Linked DNA regions of Homo sapiens: region 2 is linked to region 1. Evidence: fine-mapped expression QTL. Tissue or cell type: whole blood. Region 1 holds a variant in brackets; the other region holds the start of a gene. All regions are shown on one strand. Distances are from middle to middle.

Evidence for each region. PIP is the estimated chance that this variant, and not a neighbour inherited with it, causes the effect.
Region 2: STX10 starts here. The variant in region 1 is fine-mapped to the expression of STX10 in whole blood (INTERVAL, PIP 0.97).

The regions. Positions count from the first base shown.
Region 1 is chr19:13,120,903-13,129,074 of GRCh38, forward strand. The region is part of intron 1 of NACC1 (nucleus accumbens associated 1); the gene reads left to right. Among named protein-coding and RNA genes, the nearest start is that of NACC1, 6.7 kb to the left of the region's middle. RefSeq lists a silencer at 1,373-1,442 and enhancers at 1,813-1,862, 2,426-3,085. The variant G/A (reference allele first, on the strand shown) is at 3,171.
Region 2 is chr19:13,145,622-13,153,793 of GRCh38, forward strand. STX10 (syntaxin 10) reads right to left here and starts at 4,754. Exons shown (of 8, transcript NM_003765.3): 1 at 4,518-4,754; 2 at 4,107-4,276; 3 at 3,878-3,972; 4 at 3,408-3,470. The coding sequence starts at 4,552. It overlaps IER2 (immediate early response 2), which reads left to right and starts at 4,790. Exons shown (of 2, transcript NM_004907.3): 1 at 4,790-4,931; 2 at 7,323-8,172. The coding sequence starts at 7,566. RefSeq lists silencers at 4,265-4,314, 4,355-4,514, 6,065-6,424 and enhancers at 4,635-4,834, 4,855-4,924, 7,205-7,534, 7,521-8,172.

The sequences.
Region 1 (8,172 bases):
AAGTGCAACAAGTAGGCAGCCCGTTGAGACAGTTTTATTTCACTGCTGGGTGCTGACTCCCCGCTGGGGGCTGGGGAAGCATCCCGGAGTAACAGATCCAGAGCAGCTAGCTCTCAAGCGACCAAACTTTCACAAGCAAAGGATCAAGATAATTTCACATACTTCTGTGTTTACAAAGATGGTGTAGCAAAGTGAAGTCATTATGAGCCATGAGGGGATGGGGAGGTTTCGATGGGTGGCCGGAAGTGTTCCCGGAGAGCTAAGATCTGAATAATAATGTTAGCTAAGGGGTGGGTGGTGCTGGGGCGCAGGGAGGGGTCAGTGTTCTAGGCTCAGGGGACAGCACATTCACAGCTTTTCTTGAGTATGTACCAGTCTTCTTCTGAGTGCTCTAAACATTTTGTCTTCATGAGGGAAGGAGTGGGGGGATGACCCTACTGTGGAGACAGAGACTCTAGTACCATTCACAAGAGAGTGAAGCCCTGTCTCTGGGTCTCCTGGATCTGCCCATCACCCCCAGATGGAAGTTCAGAACCCCTTGGCCTGCATCTAGGGTATTTAAAAAATCTGGCCTCCTGGCCGGGCAGCAGGGAGCCCCAGCAGGTTCTTGAGCTGGGCTTTGAGGAGATGTGAGTTTTGGTCAGCCTTACAGGGTCTATTGAAGGAGTCTGCCTGGAGGCCCGGGGGTTTGGAGAGAGTTTGGGGTTGGCCCAACATTGTCTGACCCTAGATTTCATCAGTGTCATTGCCAGAGCCTGTGTGGAGAGAGGGATCCCATCAGGCTTGGTGGGGCATATTGCTTTTGGGATGGTGGTGAGCCACCGGGGCTGGAAAACATGAGTCAGTGTTCATGCCACTCTGCGTCCTCAGATCCTCCGTGCCCCTCGTTTCTCCTCCTAGGTTGCTCTCAGCACTTGTACACACTCGAACTCATTTAAGCCCGTGGCTAGCAGGTCCTGCCTGTTATCATCATTTGACACACAAGGCAACTGAGGCACCCTAGTCCTTCCTTCACACAAGCTGCAAAGTGGTCTGGCTACCACCCCTGTGCCGCCTTCCAGCCACTTTCATGTTCCTCGTGTCTGCATTTGCTCCTCAGTCCTCTCAGCCGCTACTGCCTTCCCCTAGAGAACCCTCTGGGCCGCATGAGGTGGGGCCGGGAGGTGGGACTGGGCCTGCTTGCACATTAGGTGGGGTGAGGACCAGCCGAGCCGGCAGAGGTGACGTGTCTTAGGTTGTGATCTGTGTGTGGTTGTGGTCATGTCCCTCCAGCCTTCTCATGTGCTGCCTCCTTGGCGAAGGTCTCAGTTCTTAGAGACCTGTGCGTCTTCTCTGAGGGCTTTGACTGTGTCCAGTTCGTGGTTTCTAAATCGAGCAAAGGGAGAGGGTAGGTAAGGGTGAGCAGACACGGTCTAGTAGAGAGTGAAATTTCACACTTAGCACCACCCCTGTCTCAGCCATGAGACTCTGGGCAAAGGTCTTTACCTCTGAGCCTCAGTGTCCTCCTCTGATAAGGAGTGACAAGTGGGCACAACTATACTGCTGTGATTCGCAACTGGGTACAGTCCTACCTCCGGGGACACTTGGGGAATGTCTGGGGACATTTTTGGTTGCCCCTGCCGGGGGGGGGGGGGTGTGCTGCTGGCATCTAGTGGGTTTATAGGCCAGGGATGCGGTTCAACATCAGACAGTGTGTAGGGCAGCCCCCACCACAAAGAATGATTGACGCAAATGCAGTGGCTGGGTGGGGAATCTCCACTGTCTGGTTATCATGAGGTTTGCGGGAGAGGTTGGCGTCTGGGGTGTGAGTGGACAGTGCTGTGAAGGCTCTGGGGAAAACCCCAGCGATCACTGCCTGTTAATCCCATGAAATGTGCGAGGTCTGGGAGATGGTGAGAGGCATAAGATGTCTTCTACTCCCAGGGAGTTTGCGGCCCAGCACGGGGCCAGGGGATACGACTAACAGCAGCTGGCATTCATGAGCACCGACTACGGGGCGAGCGCCGATCGGCCTGTGTTCTTTGGTTGTTTAATCCTTGAAATAGCCTTGTGAGGTGGCTGCTGCTGTCAGCCCATTTTCTAGATGGGAGACTGATATGGGGGGTGAGCAGTATTGAGGGTAATTCTGAGTGACAAGCTCTATAAGGGATTTGAGCCTAGTACAATAGTAGGATTCAAAATCTTAGGTCCTGCGTGGTTCCCTAGCACAGCCCAGCAGGCCCCTCTCCCAGGATGATCCCCATCCCTCCACCCTCCTTTGTGTTAGCGGCACCAGGGTCACCTCAGGGCCTTTGCACTTACTGTTGTTCCCTCCACCCTTGGTTGCCGCCACTGCTGCCCTGTCTTTTGGGTATGATCTGATTACACGCAGGGAGTGGGATGTAACTCCGAAGGGTGGGCTTATGGTTGGAGTTGGTGGGGAGGGAGCGGGCAGGCTGCGAGCTCCATGAGGACGGAGGCAGAGCTTCTGCCAGGCTCTCCAAGGAGCTGGAGCTGCTGCCTGCAAAGGGAGGCCAGATTGCCGAGGGCTGCGAGGAGGAGCGAGTGGGAGGAGGGAGAGGCAGCACGCGGAGACTGCTCATTCCCGGAGATGGTGGTTGCAGGGAGAAGGGGCTAGAGAATAGCTGCAGTTGGGAGGATTGGGAAAGGAAGAATGAAAAGAATGAAGAAGGCCTTCCTTGGGGATTAGAGAGAGGGCACCCCAGACCCTGAGGTGGAGGTCCTCAGACAGGCAGAAGACCCTGTTTCTGGAGAGGACACATCCAGTAGCTCAGGTAAAGAGCCCCAGCTCTGGGCTCGGCCGGTCCGGGGTTCCCGTCTGGTCTCTGCCTTGCTTCTCTGAACACCAGTTTTCCCACCTGTGAAATGGGTCTAGTCACAGCTGCCTCACATTTTTGCCTGATTCGGGAGCCAGACGGCCTGGGTATAAACCTGTGCCTGCCATTCACCAGCTACATGTTCCCCACCTCTGGCTTCACCTCTCTGGGCCTCATTCCCATCCATGAAATGGCAGGCAGGCTCATTTCTTCCTCAGAAACTGTAAAGAAGAGTAAGTTAAATGAGCCTGTCTGAGCCCTGGCCAGGTATGGGCCCAGTCAGTGAGGCTTGAGTAGGGGACACTGTTACTAATCCTATTCCACCATGGATTTAACAATAGTCATTCAGGGAAA[G/A]AGATAACGAATTAAATCTGTGGGTGTATAAGAAAAAAAATACAGGCCAGGTGCAGTGGCTCACGCCTGTAATCCCAGCTCTTTGGGAGGCTGAGGTGGGCGGATCACTTGAGGCCAGGAGTTTTGAGACCAGCCTGGCCAACATGGAGAAACCCAGTCTCTACTAAAAATACAAAAATTAGCCAGGCATGGTGGTGTGTGCCTGTAATCCTAGCTACTCAGGAGGCGGAGGCACGAGAATTGCTTGAACCCAGGAGGCGGAGGTTGCAGTTAGCCGAAATCACGCCACTGTACTCCAGCCTGGGCGACAGAGGAAGACTGTCTCAACAAAAAAGAAAAAAAAATACTGATGCAAGATGAGGTCTTGCTGTATTGCCCAGGCTGGTCTCAAACTCCTGGCTTCAAGCGTCTTCCTGCCTCAGCCTCCCGAAGTTCTGGGATTACAGGTAGGAGTCACCGCCCCCCACTGAACAGTTTGTTCTTCACTAACTGTTTTCCTGGACTGCCTTCACATTCAGCCCCTACAGAGGGGTCTTTCTGGTTCTGGGTCAGGCAGGCAACCTGAGTAGCTGCCAGGATCCAGCCACATCCTGCTGAGCTGCATGAAGGACTGTGGGGCTCTCTGGGGCCTTTGTTCCTTGTTACACTTGGAGTTGCTGGTCTCCCTTAACTGGCTTGTAGGTCTTAGCCCATCTGGGCTGCTGTAATAAAATACCTTAGACTGGAAGCCAGGCACATTGCTCATGCCTCTAACCTCAGCATTTAGGAGGCTGAGATGGGAGGATTGCTTGAGCCCAGGAGTTCGAGACCAGCCTGGGCAACATAGTGAGACCTCATCTTTACAAAAAAATTTAATTTTAATTTGTTTTTCACCCGTGACACAGCCCTCAGGAGGTCCTGAGAACATATGTCTCTCGTCTTTGCAAAAAATTGTTTTAATTAGCCGGGCGTGGTGGCACACATCCCTAGTCCCAGCTACTCAGGAGGCTGAGGTGAGAGGATAACTTGAGCCCAGGAGTTTGACGCTATAGTGATCCAAGATTGCACCACTACGCTTCAGCCTGGGTGACAGAGCAAGACCCTGTCTCAAAAAAACAAAACAGACTGGGCCATTGATAAACAACAGAGATGAGCTGCTCATAGTTGTAGAGGGTGGGAAGTCCCATATCACGGTGCTAGCAGATTCCGTGTCTAGTGAGGGCCCATCTCTCATAGATAGCACCTTTTAGGTATCTGCACAGGGTGGCAAGGACAAACAAGCTCCCCCTCTTTTATACGGGCACAGTTCGTATTCATGAGGACAGAGCCCTCCTGACTGAATCAACTCCCGAAGGCCCCACTTTTTTTTTTTTTTTTTTTTTTGGTGAGACGGAGATTTACTCTTGTTGCCCAGGCTGGAGTGCAGTGGTGCGATCTTGACTCACCGCATCCTCCGCCTCCCAGGTTCAAGCGATTCTCCTGCCTCAGCCTCCCAAGTAGCTGGGATTACAGGCATGTGTCAGCATGCCAGGCTAATTTTGTATTTTTAGTAGAGACGGGGTTTCACTGTGTTGCCCAGGCTGATCTCGAACTCCTGATCTCAGGTAATCCGCCTGTCTCTGCCTCCCAAAGTGCTGGGATTACAGGCGTGAGCCACTGCACCCAGCCCTTTTTAAATTTTTGATCAACAACTTCTTTTTTATTTTGAGATGGAGTCTTGCTCTGTTGCCCAGCCTAGAGTGCAGTGGCGTGATCTTGGCTCGCTGCAACTTCCACCTCCTAGGTTCAAGCAATTCTGCCTCAGCCTACCTAATAGCTGGGATTACAGGCGTGCACCACTGCGCCCAGCTAATTTTTGTATTTTTAGTAGAGATGGGGTTTCACCATATTGGCCAGGCTAGTCTCCAACTCCTGACCTCAGGTGATCCGCCCACCTCGGCCTCCCAAAGTGCTGAGATTACAGGCGTGAACCACCATACCTGGCTGAAAGGCCTAACTTTTTTTTTTTTTTTAGACGGAGTCTTGCTCTGTCACCAGGCTGGAGTGCATTGGCCCGATCTCGGCTCACCGCAACCTTCGCCTCCTGAGTTCAAGCGATTCTCCTGCCTCAGCCTCCCGAGTAGCTGGGATTACAGGCACGTACCACTGTGCCTGGCTAATTTTTTGTATTTTTAGTAGAGATGGGGTTTCACCATGTTAGCCAGGATGGTCTCTATCTCCTGACCTCGTGACCTCGTGATCCGCCCTCCTCAGCCTCCCAAAGTGCTGGGGTTACAGGCGTGAGTCACCGTGCCCAGCCAGCCCCACTTCTTAATACCACTACATTGGAGATAGGCTTTAGCATGTGAATTTTGGGAAGAGGCAAACATTCAGACCATAGCATCTGTCGACGGCCATGTCACAGCTTCCCTGGAAAGACATCAGGAAAGGACTGTGCCTTTGACAGTCTCTCACAGGCCCATGCTGGCTGGGGAATTCCTCAGCTCTCTTCCCTAAGAGCTGACAGTTACTACTCCCAGGAATCATCCTGCCAGCCCCCTTCCTGCAGATGGCAGGATCCACCGGCAGTGTGAGCAATTCGTCAGGTAACACTGCGGTCTCAATAGGCCCCTGACTGCTGGCTACCCACCTTGGCAGCTGTCAAAGGAGGTCGTCTGTCTGCCCAGCCACAGATAATGCTTCTGAGCCCTATTCCTGTTTGAGCCACGTTAATGTGGAACAAAACAGGGAGTTAGGTTAGGAGGAATGGAAGTAATTCTTTGTTCATTTTTTCCACGAAGGACTGTGAGCACCCACTGTGTACCTGGCCAGGTCCTAGGGGTAGAGGACACAACAGGGATCTACACAGGCAAACTCCCTGCCCCAGGGAAACTGACATGAAGCCCCAAAAAATGCCCAGTTTGGCAGGGGTGGTGGCTCGCACCTGTAGTCCGAGCACTTTGGGAGGCCAAGGCAGGAGGACCACTTGAGCCCAGGAGTTTGAGACCAGCCTGGGCAACATTAGGGAGACCTCGTCTCTATTACTAAAAAATGCACAAATAAATAATTTTTTTTTAGAAAAAGAAAAATGGCCAGCTTGCTAAATAAATCATAGGAACTCCCAAGAAGGATAAGTCAAGCAGGGAGAATCAAGCCAGGGAGTTAGTGTCGGGAAGGGCTTTGTTGGTCAGACGCAGTGGCTCATGCCTATAATCGCAGGGTTTTGTGAGGCTGTGGCAGGAGGAACACTCAGCTGGGAGTTGGAGACCAGCCCAGGCAATATAGTGAGATCACGTCTCTACCAAAAAAAAAAAAAAAAAAAAGCATACATATACATATACTTTTTTTTTTTTTTTTTTTTTTTTTTTTTCGGTTAACTGGATGGGCCGGGTGCCGTGGCTCACGCCTGTAATCCCAGCACTTTGGGAGGTGGGCGGATCACTTGAGGTCAGGAGTTCAAGACCAGCCTGGCCAACATGGTGAAACCCCATCTCTACTAAAAATAGAAAAATTAGCCAGGCATGGTGGTGGTTACCTTTAATCCCAGCTACTCAGGAGGCTGAGACAGGAGAATCGCTTGAACGATTCTTGCAGTGAGCCGAGATCCCACCACTGCACTCCAGCCTGGGCGACAGAGCGAGACTCTGCCTCAAAAAAAAAAAGAAAAAAAAAAATTAGCTGGATGTAGCTCCTGTGGTCCCAGCTATTTGGGAAGCTGAGGTGGGAGGATTGCTTGAGCCCAGGAGTTTGAGGCTGAAGTGAGCTATGATGGTGCCACTGTACTCCAGCCTGGGTGACAGAGCAAGGCCCTGTCTCCAAAAGCAAAAGAGTAGAGAAAGGGCTTTATGTGACCAGGGAGAGTATGAAGAGCTATGGCTGTCCCATTCCCATTCTAGTAGGTCCGAGAGCAAGCAGGGCCAGACTGCCAGGGGCCCCAATAAAGCATTGTAGGGGCCCAGGCAGTGTCACTTGGGGCCAAGGTAGTACAAAGTGGTTTTGAAGGAGTTGAAGATGAATCCAAGGATCTGAATGAGGAGGGCCAGAGCTGGTGAAGCTACGGCATTCACAGGTTTTGGGAAGGACTGGAGCCAGGTCCTGAAATTGTTGAGTGGAGGTGTCTGGGGTGTGTGCGAGTCTGGCATTCACAGGGAAGTCCGGGCCAAAGACTCCAGTGGGGGAGGCATCAGTGAATAGATGGTGCTTCAGGCCTGTCTTAGTCAGCTCAAGCTGCCACACAACAAAATATCACAGACTGGGTGGCTTAAACAACAGACATTTATATTTCAGAGTGCTGGGGGCTGGCAGTCTAGATGAGAGTGCCAGCGTGGTCAGGTTCTGGTGAGGGCTCTCTTCATGGCTTGCAGACAGCTGCCTTCTTAATACCACCGTTATGACCTCAATTAACCTTAATTAGCTCCCAAAGGTTTTATCTCCAGATACAGGCACATTGGGGCTCAGAGTTTCAATCTGTGAATTTGGAGGGACATACTTTGTCCATAGCAGAGCCCTGAGACTGAGCCCAGTCCCCTGGAGGTGAAAACCCTTTCTGGAAGGGCCACACTCCCCATCCACTACTGCCCTTCCTAGATCTCAGCTCCAGTGTCACCCCTTCTGGGCAAGGTCAGGCACCCCAGTGTGTAGCACATTGATCTGTGTGACCAAGGATGAATGGCCCTGTCTCCTGCTGGACTGTGAGCTCCAGAGGCAGGGCTACTTTGTCACCATTGTGGCCTGCCCAGGCAGGGACCTGGCAAATATTTATTGAGTAGTTGTTGGGAAGTCATGGAAACCGTGTGCTGTGCCCTTGGGTCTCACCAGAAGATCTGCTCAGGCCCAGGGCCAGGACTAGGCACTGTCCTGGCCAGGAAGGTCCCAGCTGCCCTGTGGCCTCCTGCCCTTGTCCCCCACACCCTCAGGGGTGCTGATATGCTGAATTTTAAGGAGAGATGATTCTCATATGGTTTTCTGCCCTTGGGGAGTTTATAGTCAAGTGGGACTTAGTTTCCTCAGAGGTAAGCTTAAGGGCACTGTGGCCGGGGTGGGG
Region 2 (8,172 bases), 25 kb after region 1:
GCTCATGCTTGTAATCCCAGCACTCTGGGAGGTGGAGGTGGGCAGATAACTTGAGGTCAGGAGCTCGAGACCAGCCTGGCCAACATGGTGAAACCCCATCTCTACTAAAAATACAAAAATTGGGCCGGGCACAGTGGCTCACACCTGTAATCCCAGCACTTTGGGAGGCCGAGGTAGATGGATCACGAGGTCAAGAGTTTGAGAGCAGCCTGGCCAACATGGTGAAATCCCGTCTCTACTAAAAATACAAAAATTAGCCAGGCTTGGTGGCGGGTGCCTGTAATCCCAGCTACTAGGGAGGCTGAGGCAGGTCAGAATCACTTGAACCTGGGAGGCTGAGGTTGCAGTGAGCCGAGATCACACCACTGCACTCCAGCCTGGGTGACAGGTTAAGACCTTCTCTCAAAAAAAAAAAAAAAAAAAAAAATTACCGGGTGTGGCAGTGCATGCCTGTAATCCCAGCTACTTGTGAGGCTAAGGCAGCAGAATCGCTTGAACCTGGGGGGCGGTGGTTGCAGTGAGCTGAGATCGCACCACTGCATTTCCAGCCTGGGTGTCAGAGTGACCTTGCCTCAAAAAAAAAAAAAATAAAATAAAATGGGAAGAGCTAGAATCCGTGTTTCCTGGGTTGAAATGAGGATTTAAAGAATTAATTGATGGGGGACACTTACAGCAGTGCCCAACACATAGTAATGCTAGTAAATGTCACATTTTACTATTTGTTTATTTTTGGGGGGATTTTAGCTGGGATTACAGGCACCTGCCACCACATCCAGCTAATTTTTGTATTTTTACTAGTGATAGGGTTTCCCCATGTTGGCCAGGCTGGTCTCGAACTCCTGACCTCAAGTGATCCACCTGCCTCAGCCTCCCAAAGTGCTGGGATTACAGGCGTGAGCTACCATGCCTGGCCCAACAGATGTTTGTTTGTTTGTCTGAGACAGAGTCTTGCTCTGTCACCTAGGCTGGAGTGCAGTGGTGTGATCTCGCCTCACTGCAACCTCCACCTCCCGGGTTCAAGCAATTCTCCTGCCTCAGCTTCCCAAGTATCTGAGATTACAGGTGATCACCACCACGCCTGGCTAATTTTTGTATTTTTTGTAGAGACAGGGTTTCATCATGTTGGCCAGGCTGGTCTCGAACGCCTGACCTCAGGTGATCCACTTGCCTGGGCCTCCCAAAGTGCTGAGATTTTAGGTGTGAGCCACCGTGCCCGGCTCCAACAGATGTATTTTAGAGTTTGGACTTGAATTCCCCCAAGGCAGCACATCTGGAAGGCACGTGGGCACTGCTATGGGATGACAAACTGGGAGGAGCCTCAGTCCCCCACCCTCCCCGACCCCACGTACGCTTATGAGGGAGAGAGAAAGGCTGGTGGTTCTCAACATATGAAAAATATCAACAGAGAACACCAAGAGAAAAAGTGGACTGACAGAGGTGGTTGGGAGAAACACAGAAACACACACACACACACACACACACACACACACACGGCAGGCACATTACAGAGGAAACTAGCAGATATTAGGATATGAGGGGGGAAAATGCAGATACACTCAGAGGCCAAGTGCACGCACCCAAATAGGTTAGGTGCATGCACAGATGAAAAGGCGGGGGCGGATCACCTGAGGTAGGGAGTTTGAGACCAGCCTGGCCAACATGGGGAAACCCTGTCTCTACTAAAAACACAAAAATTAGCTGGGCATGGTGGCACACTCCTGTTGTCCCAGCTACCCAGGAGGCTGAGGCAGGAGAATTGCTTGAACCCGGAAGGTGGAGGTTTCAGTGAGTCAAGATTGCACCACTGCACCCCAGCCTGGGCAACATGCCAAGACTCCATCTCAAAAAAAAAAAAGGAAGCTGGCCGGGCGCGGTGGCTCACGCCTGTAATCTCAGCATTTTGGGAGGCTGAAGCTAGTGGATCACAAGGTCAGGAGATCAAGACCATCCTGGCCAACATGATGAAACTCCGTCTCTACTAAAAATACAAAAATTGGCCGGGCGTGGTGGCTCACACCTGTAATCCCAGCACTTTGGGAGGCCGAGGCAGGTGGATCACGAGGTCAAGAGTTCAAGACCAGCCTGGCCAAGATGTTGAAGCCCCGTCTCTACTAGAAATACAAAATTTAGCCACGCATGGTGGTGGGTGCCTGTAATCCCAGCTACTCGGGAGGCTGAGACAGAATTGCTTGAACCCGGGAGGCGGAGGCTGCAGTGAGCCGAGATCACGTCACTGCACTCCAGCCTGGGCGACAGAGCAACACTCCGTCTCAAAAAAAAAAAAAAAAAAAAAAATTAGCCGGGTGTGGTGGCATGTGCCTGTATTACAGCTACTCAGGAGGCTGAGGCTGGAGAATCGTTGAGCCCAGGAGGCGGAGGTTGCAGTGAGCCGAGACTGCGCCACTGCACTCCAGCCTGGCAACAGAGTGAGACTGCATCTCAAAAAAAAAAAAAAAAAAAAAAAAAAGGAAGTTATGTGCGATGGCTCACGCCTGTAATCCCAGCACTTTGGAAGGCTGAGGCAGGCAGATCAGTTGATGTGAGGGGTTTGAGACCAGACTGACCAACATGACAAAACCCTATTAAAAATACAAAAATTAGGCCAGGCGCAGTGGCTCATGCCTGTAATTCCAGCACTTTGGGAGGCTGAGGCAGGTGGATCACCTGAGGTTGGGAGTTCAAGATCAGCCTGACCAACATGGAGAAACCCCGTCTCTACTAAAAATACAAAATTAGCCAGGCATGGTGGCGTATGCCTATAATCCCAGCTACTCGGGAGGCTGAGGCAGGAGAATTGTTTGAACCCAGGAGGCGGAGATTGCGGTGAGCCGAGATTGCACCATTGCACTCCAGCCTGGGCAACAAGAGTGAAACTCCATCTCAAAAAAAAAAAAAAAAAAATACAGAAGTTACCCTGGCATGGTGACGAGCACCTGTAATCCCAGCTACTTGGGAGGCTGAGGCAGGAGAATCGCTTGAACCCAGGAGGCAGAGGTTGCAGTGAGCTGAGATCAAGCCACTGCACTCCAGCCTGGGCAACAGAACAAGACTCTGTCTCAAAGAAAAAAAAAAGAGTAAAAGGCAGGCATGCGTCCTGGAAACAGGTGCACACAGGACAAATGGCATGGAAGCAGAAAGGAGATAGGTACACAGGCCCCCAGCCCTCTCCTGCAACAGGAAACCAGTATAGACCCAGAGGACACAGTAGAGAGGAACCCACGGACATATACACATAGAGAGGTTCAGGTGCACACACCGAGAAAGTGCAGGCAGGTAGACAGCAAGAAGATAACTGCCCACAGAGAGGACGGGCACTGTCGCAAAAGGGACAGGTGAACACGCACAGAGGGATCTGGCTTGGTTACCCCCAGGGGCTCAGGTGGGCAGGGTGGGTCAGGAAGGCTTACCTCTCTGTTATTCCTCTCCAAAAATGCTACGGCTGTTGGGCTGACCATATGGTCCTTCATTTCCTGGAGGTAAGGACAGCATTAGGGAGGAAAGACACTCAGGCTGGGCGCGGTGGCTCACGCCTGTAATCCTAGCACTTTGAGAGACCAAGCCGGGTGGATCACCTGAGGTCAGGAGTTCGAGACCAGCCTGATCAACATGGTGAAACCCCGTCTCTACTAAAAACACAAAACTTAGCCGGGTATCGTGGCAGGCACCTGTAGTCCCAGCTACTCAGGAGACTGAGACACAAGAATCGCTTGAGCCTGGGAGGCGGAGGTTGCAGTGAGCCGAGATTGCAACACTGTACTCCAGCCTGGGCGACAGAGCGAGGCTCTGTCTCAAAAAAAAAAAAAAAAAAGAAAGAAAGAAAGAAAAAAAAACACACTCAAACCTTCCCCCACTCCCCGCCTGCAGGACCTTTCCTGACCTGGACTGCCTCTCGCATCCGCTCCACGAACACCTTTCTCTCCTGCAGGTCCCCGGCTGGGAGCTTGAACTTGCCTGGGTTGGCTTCCACTATACGTGGGCTGAGAGTCAAGGGTCAAGGCCGGAGCCAGATATCATCCCCGTCCCTAGGGGTCCAGCCCTACCCGAAGGTGGGCTGCCACCGCAATGGGCTCTCCCATGCCACCCTCTGCCACAAAGCCCCAGGATATCGATGGTCTCTTCCAGGTCCTCGAGGTCCCACTCGATGCTGCGCAGGCCATTCCGCAGCTCATTGGTCGTCCAGTCCAGCTCCTCGCGTCCGACCGCCGCGCTTTCCTGCAGGAGCTCGCACCAGCGCTGGTACAGCCCGCGGGCCGTGTTCACCGCCTTCTGCACCTCGCTGCGGGCAGGGGCACGGCGGGCGCGGCTGGGGGCAGGCGGTCCTCCCGCCTGCCTCTGCCCCCGACTGCAAACCCAAACGCATGGGGGACTCCGGAGACCCCTATATACCCCTGCGTGCGCCTCCCACTCTGCACCCCGACGGCCTTGCCCAGCCCGCCGGGCACGCTGGGGCCGGCACCCGGGCACTGGCTGGCTTGGGTACAGAGCACCCTCCGCCCTCCCCCGTCGTTGTCACTCACCCTCGGACTACAAAAAAGGGGTCTTCGAGAGACATGTCAGTCCCTTCCCCCCCAGGCCGAACCCCCCTCCCGGCCTGGGTTCGCGGGCTGGTTCCCTCCCAACCGAGGAGAACGCGCCGCCACCCCCGCCCCCGTCACGCCACCATCGAGAGCCGGACCGCCAGGGGAGAAAGAGAAGCCTCGGAGGCCCGACGTGCGGACACTTCCGCCCTCTCCTCAGCCATCTTGGTTGTGGGCAGAGGCAGCTTCCGGTGCACATGCCCCCGCCCCTTAGCCCTCTCGTGCCGCACCGTAGGGGGCGGTGTCGGAGTTCTGTCTGGGCCTATTCGGGTCCGAGTTCGGAATTTCGGTTCAAGGCCCAGTTCCTCGGATTGTTCCTGCGCAACTTCAGTTTCCCTTCCAGGCACGGGCAATGTAAATAATGATAGCCTCCCTCATCTCTGGCGGCTGGGTATTATGGCTGGGGAAGGGGCTCATTCGATTCGTTGAAGCTTTTCATGGACTCCCTGAGCTGGCACCTGGGAGATCGTCCCATCCCAGGGTCCCGAGTGTCAGGTTTGGCTAGGGTCTGGGGGAGAGGTGGTCCTCCCTTCTCCCTGCGGGGGCGCGGTGAGGAGCGGGCCTGCTCCTCCGGGGAGTTCTGCCGCATTCTCCCAATCTCTTTCCTGAGAAGTGGCGGAGTTGGGGGCACTTCGAGGTCGCCTTGGGGCGAGGTGGTCGTGAGGGGGTCCCAGATATGCCAGCAGCGGGGGGAGGTCACCTTTGAGAAAGTGCGTGGAGGTGGGTTTCTTCAGAAGCGCGGAGTCTTTCTGGGTGCGAGCCTGGGGGTAGCGGGTGGTGGCTTTGAGGATGGTCTCCAGGGGGGCCCTCTGTGTGTGGGGTCTCCGTCTGGGTAGGGGCCAGGAATATCAGCGGAGGGACTCAGGGTCGTCCCTATGTGTGACAGTGGCGCTGTGTGTTGGGGAGCTTCGGGAAAGCACTTTTTTTGAGTGATAGGGGGCCTGGTCTCCCCTGGAGGGTGGGCGGGTTATCTGAGGGAGTCCTCGGAGGGTCGCCCCCTTGCGCGTCAGAGTTGCTGCGTGGGGTCTCAGAGATAGCGCCTGGGCTGGGGAAATCATTGTGGGGTCTCCGTGGTAAGGTTAGCGGGGTGGGGACGGCCTGCGTCTTCGGCAGGTCGTCGCAGTCTGGCACCATCGTTGAATGGGGACGAGTTTGGGAAGGGTATTTTAGGGGGGAATAACTTTTGAGTTCCCAGCGTGCGGGGGAAGGGCGGGACGGGAGGGTGTCCCAAGGCCTGAGAAGATCAGTGTGGGGCAGGGGTCAGGAATAACCTGGGAGGGGGCCTTGTATGGGGGAAATAATTGGGAAGAGGAGAGATGGGATGAAGGGGGCCTCAGCGGGTCGTCTCCTGTGTATGCAGGGTCGTTCTGCAGCGTCTCTGGGAGATGGCGTCCCTGGGAGCCCTCAGGTCGCCCCTACCCGCTGCGGGGTGCTTTCCTGGCGTCACGCCTTCCTGGCCCCTGGAGGGAAGGAAGTGAAACTCTCCTCTTCCCCCACCCGGCTGGAATGCGAGTCAGGAAGCCTGGGGCTCCAGCCTGCTCCGGCTGCCCGGGTCGGGGATGGGGAGGGGCGTGGCCGGAGCGCAAAGCCCCGCCCCTCCGCGCCCCCCCCCCGGAAGCCCCGCCGCCGGCCGCTAAGGCGATCACGGGCCCTGTCCTAATATGGGCAACCGGAAGCGGCCCGCGCGACTGCCCTACGTCACTCCGTCCAAATTTAGTTGTGGAAGTCAGCGGGCGCTGGTGGCGGGAAGGCGCCGCGAGCCAGTGCGGGCGGAAAGGGGGCGGGGGGCGCACCACCCCTTAAAGGGCCCGCACCAGGAATGAATGGAGCCATTCGAACAATTCTGCATCCTATTTTTGGAGGAAGTGGAATTAGTATTTCTTGGAGAGACGGCGCGTAGCGGAGGGTAGGGCGGAGATTTTCTATCTGCTCTGTCTCTGCATTGCTGGGTTTCCAGCTCCCAACCTAACCCCGCCTCCCCGAACGCGGAGACGGAACTCGGCCCCCTTGTTTGGGGGGCGGCAGCCACGTGTTCACGGGGACTGTCGTGCGCGCCGGGTTCGCAGCCGTGCGAGCTCTGAACCCACCCGTGGAGCTCCTGTCGCGGGAAACTGCGGGGGAATGGCTTGGTACGAATCACGGGAACCCGTAGCCCGGGGCGGGTCACCGCCTACAAGCAAGGGCTGGCGTACGCTAGAGACCGAAGAGCTGGAGGCCCCAGTGGCCCCCTTTCACAGCAGTAGCAAATATTGTTTGTTTAGTAAATATTGGCCTAGTGACTCTGCCTTGGTTTCCCCACTTGAAGGAAGCAGATAGAACAGTATCCTCCGAGGAGTGGAGGCTGGGGATCGGTGAATTATTGATAAAAGGAGAGCTCTTAACCTAGCCTGGCACGTTGTAAGCGCTGTTAGCATGATTATTGGTGCAGAAAACACTCATTAGACACACCTGGTAAATGCTAAGAACAGTGGCCACAGGGGATGTTCAGGCTGGAACCAGGGTCTTCCCCTGTGTGAAGGGAAACTTGCTGCCCACGACCCACTGGGGCCTCCAGACGGGAGCATGTGGGTAGGCCGTGAGCTCCACCCCCGGCCCCCCTCCCTTGGGCCAAGGCGCTGATGCATCGGCGGGGCTCAGAGAAAGGAGCCCACCCAGAAAGCTCAGCGTGGAGTCGGGGGACGCTCCTCCTCGCCAGGGTTCCCGTCCCCTTTCCCTGCTGGGTAAATCGCATTCTGTCTCTTTAAGGAGTGTTTGGCCGCGACGAGTTGGAAAGCCCGGATGCGTCCTTCGGTTGGGCGGGGTGTCTCAGTGACGTCACTGGGGGTATAAAAGGGCCTGGGTGGCGGGCGCCTGGGCAGAGCGTCCTAGCAGTGTCACTGCGTGGGTTGGTTTGTGTAGAGAGGCGTGAGCGAGCCCGTTGTCCGGAGTGCACCTGCTGCCTGTTCTGTCCCTCCCGGGAGCCCCCGCCGCTGTCGCCGTCGAGTCGCCATGGAAGTGCAGAAAGAGGCACAGCGCATCATGACCCTGTCGGTGTGGAAGATGTATCACTCCCGCATGCAGCGCGGTGGCCTGCGGCTGCACCGGAGTCTGCAGCTGTCGCTGGTCATGCGCAGCGCCCGGGAGCTCTACCTCTCGGCCAAGGTGGAGGCCCTCGAGCCCGAGGTGTCGTTGCCGGCCGCCCTCCCCTCTGACCCTCGCCTGCACCCGCCCCGAGAAGCCGAGTCCACGGCCGAGACAGCGACCCCCGACGGTGAGCACCCGTTTCCGGAGCCAATGGACACGCAGGAGGCGCCGACAGCCGAGGAGACCTCCGCCTGCTGTGCCCCGCGCCCCGCCAAAGTCAGCCGCAAACGACGCAGCAGCAGCCTGAGCGACGGCGGGGACGCTGGACTGGTCCCGAGCAAGAAAGCCCGTCTGGAAGAAAAGGAAGAAGAGGAGGGAGCGTCATCCGAAGTCGCCGATCGCCTGCAGCCCCCTCCGGCGCAAGCGGAGGGCGCCTTTCCCAACCTGGCCCGCGTCCTGCAGAGGCGCTTCTCCGGCCTCCTGAACTGCAGCCCCGCGGCCCCTCCGACGGCGCCGCCCGCGTGCGAGGCAA